Linked DNA regions of Homo sapiens. The protein of the gene in region 1 interacts with the protein of each later gene in a pairwise test. Each region holds a gene or a part of one and is shown on either strand. Other genes may lie near its edges. The genes, in order: OPA1 and TESC.

Evidence for each region.
Region 2: the proteins of OPA1 (region 1) and TESC interact in a two-hybrid assay, tested with the Homo sapiens proteins (one large-scale study listed by IntAct).

The regions. Positions count from the first base shown.
Region 1 is NC_000003.12:193,638,208-193,642,024, reverse strand, and holds part of OPA1 (dynamin-like GTPase OPA1, mitochondrial), read right to left. Parts: intron 1-3,817. UniProt on the Homo sapiens protein: Dynamin-related GTPase that is essential for normal mitochondrial morphology by mediating fusion of the mitochondrial inner membranes, regulating cristae morphology and maintaining respiratory chain function.
Region 2 is NC_000012.12:117,057,790-117,061,606, reverse strand, and holds part of TESC (calcineurin B homologous protein 3), read left to right. Parts: intron 1-3,817. UniProt on the Homo sapiens protein: Functions as an integral cofactor in cell pH regulation by controlling plasma membrane-type Na(+)/H(+) exchange activity. Promotes the maturation, transport, cell surface stability and exchange activity of SLC9A1/NHE1 at the plasma membrane.

The DNA.
Region 1 (3,817 bases):
CCTGCCTCAGCCTCCCGAGTAGCTGGGATTACAGATGCCCGCCACCACACCTGGCAAGTTTTTTGTACTTTTAGTAGAGACAGGGTTTCGCCATGTTGGCCAGGCTGGTCTTGAACTCTTGACCTCAGGTGATCCGCCCTCCTCAGCCTCCCAAAGTGCTGGGATTACAGGCATGAGCCACTGCACCCAGCCAAGAAATGTTATAGCAATGTATATTAACAGTCAGTGGTTTCACAAGAACTTCTAAATGCCTAATTGACACCTTTCTAGCTTCTCTATAGTTATTTTACTTTAAAAATACAATTCCTTCTACTGAGATTAGCTAAACAGGCTAAATTTAAAAACAATAAACAGCTGTTGGAAAGCTGTTTAGCTATTTTCCATCAGAGGATTTGCTGATTTGTAGCACAGGGCAAAGGCCCAAGAGAAAAACTTAAAATGTGTAGCAGTTTCACTGGGTTGAGTAGACAAGATTGGAATTCCGAGTTATTAAGTAGTCACGTCTTAAGGTGCCACAATCCCAAAGAAAAATGAACTGCAGAAATAAACCTCCAAAACAAAACAAAACCCTACATCCTGCGCACAATTTCCTTTCACGGCATTCACATTTTAGGAAACCAAGCAGAAAGAAGCTGCTAAGGAGGTTAAAATGCTAAGCTGGGGTTTTGGCACTTTCACTGCTCTAGGGAAACAAAAAACTGGAATTCAGGGTTGGTCAAGGAGAAGCTCTAGTAAACACTAAGGGACTAATGACAAACCGGAAAGAGACCAGCCTCATCTGTTTCAAGGAAACCTGTCCACACCCTGCCTGCCAAAACAAAATTAATTTCTTCTTGAAGTATCATCCACAGCTTCTACAATTAGGATGCTAGTAACAATGTAAAAGGTAGGTTTCTCTCCCATGTTTTTACAACTGATTATTGAACAGGATATGAGGTGTAGTCTGAGGTTCATTTTGTTTTTTTCTCTAGGTTAGATGTACCCCAAATTCCCATCGGTAGTAAAATGGATATGTAAAGTCTGGTACAGTCACACAGTACCACACACAGAACTAGTAACACATAACACGATTCAATCCATAGCTAGACCCACAAAAGTGCAATCTAGATGAATCACACTAGGCTGCCCATACCCTGTTGCACTTGTAAACAGATTTCATTTCTTGAAGATTTCAGCATCAGCCTCACTGTCTTTCTCCCACTATTCTTGCCATAATTCTTGGTAATTTCAATCTTCCAATTATTCTACACCTACCCCCCACCAGCTAAACATGAAAAAAACAAAACACAATCATAATGATTCATTTAAAATTTATGTCCACAGAACTTAAAGGGACTTCAGTCCACCTCAGTAATCCTAATATCACTTGACTTTCTCCACTGATTCACTCCTAGAGTCACCACGATCTGTTAACAGACTTCACTTTTTCTTCCTGCCTCAGTCTTTAATCTCTTCTCCTTTCTAATTAACAGCTGATCATCTGGCTTAGTATTTCACTGAGTAAGCGGAAGCAATCAGAAGGAAACTTCCACACGTTCCCCTTTCTTGCCTCCACTGGTGAACTCAACGACTGGTTTCTATGTTCACCTTCCTTGATGGATCAGCAGCATGTGACCTCACTGAGCACTCCCTCCTCCTCCATGTTTTCTTTTTGTTTACCTGACTTTGCGCACACTGTCCTGCTCTGCTTTCCCTCTTACTATACTGGTTGGGCCTTCACACATTCCTTTGTTATTTTCTCTTCCCTCAACATCTTAATGTTCAGAGTGCCCAGAATATACTGCTTGCTTCTGTGTTTTCTCTATCTCTACTCACTCCCTTGAAGATCTTCTCCAGTAAGATCATGACTTTAAATACTACTTTTAGATAGTTGATCATGACTCCTAAATGTATGTCTCTGGCCCACACCTCTGTCTAAACTTGTATACCCAACTGCTTGTTATCACCACTCAGCAAGTCCAAAACTGAACTCCTGATCTTCTTCCCCCAAACCTGATCCACTGACAGACTTCCATGCAAACTACATCCTTCAATTTGTTCAGGCTAAAGACCCTGGAGGCATCATTGATGATTGACACTCTCTCTCTCTCTCCCCATTGCTTTTCTTCTCTCCCCTCTCCATATCAAACCTGTCAAGAAATCCTGTTAATTCTACTTTCAAAACACATTTATAATCTATCCATTTCTTACCAGTTTCACTGCTACTTCCCTAGCCCAAGTATCACCTGGATACTCCAGTAGCCTAGACTCCCTGGTTCTACATCTTGGCTACAACTATTTTCAAAAGAGCAGCCTTTTAAAAGGCACTTTTGTTACTTTGCTCGAAATCCTGCACTGGCTTTCCATTTTACTTAAAACGGAAGTCTGTACAATGGCCTATAAGGCCTTATTGATCTGTTCCTCCCCGCTCTTCATTATTCCTCTAATGTCATCATTTGCCCCGACCATGGCTAGCTCTTCACCCCGACCTGACCACACAGGCCTCTTTGTTGTTCCTTGAACATGACAGCCACACAACCACCTCAGAGGCTTTGCATCAGCTATTCTCCTTGCTGAACACAGGATATCCTCAGGACTACTCCCTCACTTTCTGCAAATCTTGGTTCAAATGCCACCTTATCAATGCAATCTATGAATACTCTGGCACCCTCATTCTCCTTGCCTGGTTCTGCTTTTTCTTGTTGTACAACACTATTGCCTTCTAACCTACTATACAATTATGTATTATATTTATTATCTATTATCTGTCTCCCTCTACTAGAACATACCCTCCATTAAGGCAAGGTTCTTCTTTGTTGTTGCTGTTTACCAACATATTGCCTAGAATGCTACTGGTACATATTAAGCATTCCGTAAATATCTGTTCAATGAAAGACTCTGCAGCCCCATACCTTCTTCCTGTGACCCTGGAGAAATTGTCAGTGCTCCCAGATATGGACTAGTACACCAAGTCACAATCTCCTTCACCTCAGTAACTTTGCTCTTGCAATTTTCCCTCTCTCTTGCATCATTTCCCCCCTTTATTAGATCATTATAATCAGCATATAAACATCTTTAATCCTTTTCCCACTTGCTCCGACAATATTTGCCAGCACCGCTTGCAGCTGCAGCATTTGCCCCAACATAACTCTGCCATAAAATATCTTCACTTTTATGATTATTTTCACATAGCTCTAGTGTACTGACTTTGGAAACAAAAGACATTCTATTTCAAGCATTCTGTTTTTAGTAGCGGTACGTCCATTTACAAAATATAGTAATTTTCAATAGCTGAAAATGTCAAATCCTAGAAAATGCGGAATTCCTATGTGTGATGTTTACATCATTCTCAAAAAGTTGTTGGCCGAAGATTGATTTGATAAATCTGACTTTTAAAAAACAGACATTCTGATGATTGGGACGATTCTGATGTTAGTACTGTTTAGAAATAACTCTAAGAACAGTTTTTATATTTTATTTTCACATTGAAAATTAGTCAGATTTGCTTCAGCTTCAGAGAGTGTGTTTACGTAAAATTAAATGAGCACTGGTGTTGAGCTGCACTTTTTTTCTAAACAGGAAAAGGGTTAAAAACCTTCCCTTAATTCAACAATATTCAATTGCTACTGCTTCATTTCTCTGCTCTTTTGTCACAATAAAACTAGAAAATTATCTATATTCATTGACTCCACTTCCAATATTCTCATTCTCTTAACTTCTCTCTTATCTTATTCAGAATAAAATCCAAAGGCCTCCCAACTGGGTCTCTGTCATCCTCTCCTACCACTCTCCCCTCACTCAGCTCCTGCCACACTGGCCTCCTGGCTGTGCCTTCTAC
Region 2 (3,817 bases), on another chromosome or scaffold:
TGTGAAGCCAGCACCTGGGGACACTGTGTCCCCAGCTCAATTCCTAGCAGGTCAAGCATGTCTTGTTGCTGCTGGTTGGGGACAGGCCTCTTGTGTTGAGTTAATTTCTTCTCCAGGCACATGGGTCAGGCTCTTCTAGGTGGTTTCTCCCCCACCTCTCCTCCCTCTCTCCTGGGACATTGGGGTCTGCTCTCCTTCCAGGGTCTGGACACCTGGGCCCTGGGGAAGGCACCTGGGGAAGGGCAGTGCCTCAGGATGGGCCAGACAAAGAGGGAAGCCCTGCGTGCAGCCATCTTCATTATTCGCTTCATTATTCGCTCAGCAAACCATTTATTGACCACCTTGCCAAGCCCAGCAGTGCAAGGCACTGAGGACGGGGTGCTGTGGACATCACAGGGTCCCCATCCTGCAAGGTGCCATCTGTGGTGCACTCCCAGTTCACCAGACACCGTGCTGAGCATGTTGCAGACTTTATCTCCTCTAAACTGTACGGCAACCCTGTGAGGTTCCTGTTTGCAAAGGAGTAGACAGAGGCTGGGTGAGGCAACGCCGTTTGACCCAGGTAGCAGAGTAGGGTAGAGCCCAAGTGTGATTCCAGAGGCTGTGCCCTTCACCCTCTGTCAGTATCAGTGTGCCCTCCTCACAGACGAGAAAACAGACTCAGGAAGGATTAGCAACAGCCAGTGAAAGCCAGAGAGGGTTTGGCTAGCAGCATAGCAGCCAGCGGCTTCTCTGTTCTCCCAGATTCCCTCTGGAGCTCCACGTGGTCCCTTTCTCAGGGATCTGGGCCTTGGAAAATGGATTCTATTCGGATGGCCAGGGAGAGTCGGGCAGCAGGGTATCTGGTAAGAGCATGGCTGTACGCTACCTGGCTTCCAAGCTGACTCTTCCATGCCCCCACTGGGTGAGCTGGGGCAGGTTGCCGAACCTGTCTGTGCTGAGCCTGAAGCGTCGTGGATAATAGGAGCCCTTGTGGGGTCTCTGGGAAGCGAGGTGGCTCCGGCCAAGTTGCTTGCACGGTTGTGAGCTGTAGCTGTCATTGTCATCCGATCGTGATTTCGTAGATCATCTCCCTGGTAACCCTGACTCATTCAGGGCTCTGGTCTCTCTATTCTGTCCCCTCCTGTGGTCGCCTCCCACTAATGAGGAAAAAGGGCAAGGCATCGAGCTGTCTCCGAGCAGTGAGGGTGTGACCTGCATACAGAAAAGCATGTGTCACACACAGAGGGACTTTGACAGACGGAACATGCAACAGAATGTTCCCGGCTCCCAAAAGGCCCCCATATTCCCTCTCAATCACCCCCAACTCTGGGGCGGTTCACCACCCTGACTGCAGAGGTTCGTGTTGTCACTTTCTGTTCTTTACATAAATGGAGTCATAGTGCAGTAGCACAGCAGTTCTTTTTTGTTTTTTTAAAGACTTATTAGAAAATTTTAACAGCTTTATGGAGCTGTAATGCACATATTATAAAATTCGCCCATTGAAAATGTACAGTCCACTTTAGAGCACCTCAGAAAGAAGCTCTGCACCCGTTAGCCATCACCCCGTCCCCAGCCCCTGGAAACCACATCTCTCCACTTTGTCTCCCTGCATTTGTCTTTTCTGGATGTTTCCTATAAATGGCATCGTACACCATTTGTGTCTGGCTTCTTCCACTGAGCATCATGTCTTCCAGGTATATCCGTGCTGTGGCATGGATGAGAATCTCGTTCCTGGACAGGTGCAATGGCTCACACCTGTAATCCCAGCACTTTGGGAGGCTGAGGTGGGTGGATTACCTGAGGTCAGGAGTTTGAGACCAGCCTGGCCAACTGGTGAAACCGCACCTCTACTAAAAATACAGAAGTTAGCTGGGCGTGGTAGCACATGTCTGTAATCCCAGCTACTCGGGAGGCTGAGGCAGGAGAATCACTTGAACCCGGGAGGCGGAGATTGCAGCCGAGATCCACTATGGAGCAGGCCCATGGAGATTGAGCCGAGATTGTGCCACCGCGCTCCAGCCTGGGCAACAGAGTGAAACTCTGTCTCAAAAAAACAAAACAAAAAACCTTGTTCCTTTTTATGGCCAAAAAATAATCTTATTTTTTTTTCCATGGCCAAATAACATCCCATCTCTCTGGGCCAGCTGTCCCGAGTCTACCTCCTTCTTTTGAACTGGGTTTCTGGGAATCTAAAACATGAGTCTGCCCTGACACAGCTACTGAGTTTGGCCAGAGGCCATGAGTGAGCCCAGCTGAAAGGCCTGGGTGGGAGGGACAGGAGGCCATGCCGGGGACACAGAGGGACCCGGGAATCGGCCAGGTCCTGCTGTGCCTCTCCATGCCTCCATCCCCACCCCTCCAATGCGTAAGGCAGGGCAGCACAGGGGCCACAAGGCGTTCACAGAATCTTCCAACCCAAACGGCGTAGAGTCCCTTGCATCTGTTTTGCCTCCTCCTCTCCAGCATCTGTCTGTCCTAGTGTTGAATCCCACTCCCAATGACTGTCCCGTCATCACTTCCCACCCGGACGTCCTCATTTTCAGTGGGCTGATACCCTCTGCCTTCCCTACCTGGGCCTGACACCTTTTTCCCTAGGATCACCAGCCTGTGTGCTGGGTCCTTCCCAAGACACTGCCCGTGGAGGCCCATGGAGCAGAAGGAAAAGGTGAGCAGGAAGCAGATTGAGAGAACCCAGGATGGCCTTCTGTGAAAGGCAGGGGAGGAGGGCAGGCAGGTGAGGGAGTGGCTGACGCCCCTGCCTGCAAACCTGCAGCCTCTAGGACTCAGCATTACCTGTGCCAGCTACAGGGTGTCCTCCTGTGAAATTCACCCTCCCCTCTCCCCAGCCAAGCTTTTTTTGCCTTTTTTTTTTTTTTTTTAAGAGATTGGAGTCTCACTGTATCACCCAGGCTGCAGTGTAGTGGCACCATCATAGCTCACTGTAACCTTGAACTCCTGGGCTTAAACAATCCTCTTGCCTCAGCCTCCTGCATTGGTTGCTAGCTGGGACTACAGGCGCATGCCATCACACCTGGCTGGCTTTTTTTTTTTTTTTTTTTAACAGCTTTACTGAAATGTAATTTACATAATACAACTTAGCCATTAAAATGTGCAATTCAGTGACATTTGTTGTATGTACAGAGTTCTGCATCCAGCACTGCAGTCAATATTAGAACATATTCATCACTCCCAAAAGAAAGCTGTACCCTCAGCTGGCACACCACATTCCCCTCTCCCCAACCCCCTGACAACCACCAATCTGCTTTCTACCGCGGTGTATTTACCTATTCCAGATAATTCATGTAAATGGAATTATGTAATATGTGGTCATTTGTAATTGGCTTCTTTCACTTAGCATAATGGGTTTTTTTTGTTTGTATTTTGAGACGGAGTCTCAAAACTCAAAAGTTTTTTGAGACTACAGTCTACCAGGCTGTAGTGCAATGGTGAGATCTTGGCTCACTGCAACCTCCACCTCCCGGATTCAAGCAACTCTTGTGTCTGAGGTTCCCAAGTAGCTGGGATTACAGATGTGCGCCACCACACCCGGGTAATTTTTGTATTTTTAGTAGAGATGGGGTTTCACCATGTTGGCCAGGCTGGTCTTGAACTCCTGACCTCAAGTGATCCGCCTGCCTCGGCCTCCCACAGTGCTGGGATTACAGGTGTGAGCTACGGCGCCCGGGCTCACTTAGCATCATGTTTTTTAGATTCATTTGTGTTGTAGCATCTATCAGTACTTGGTTCCTTTTTATGGCTAAAAAATACTCCATTGTGGTTGCAGTGAGCCAGGATTGCACCACTGCACTCCAGCCTGGGCGGCAGAGCGAGACTC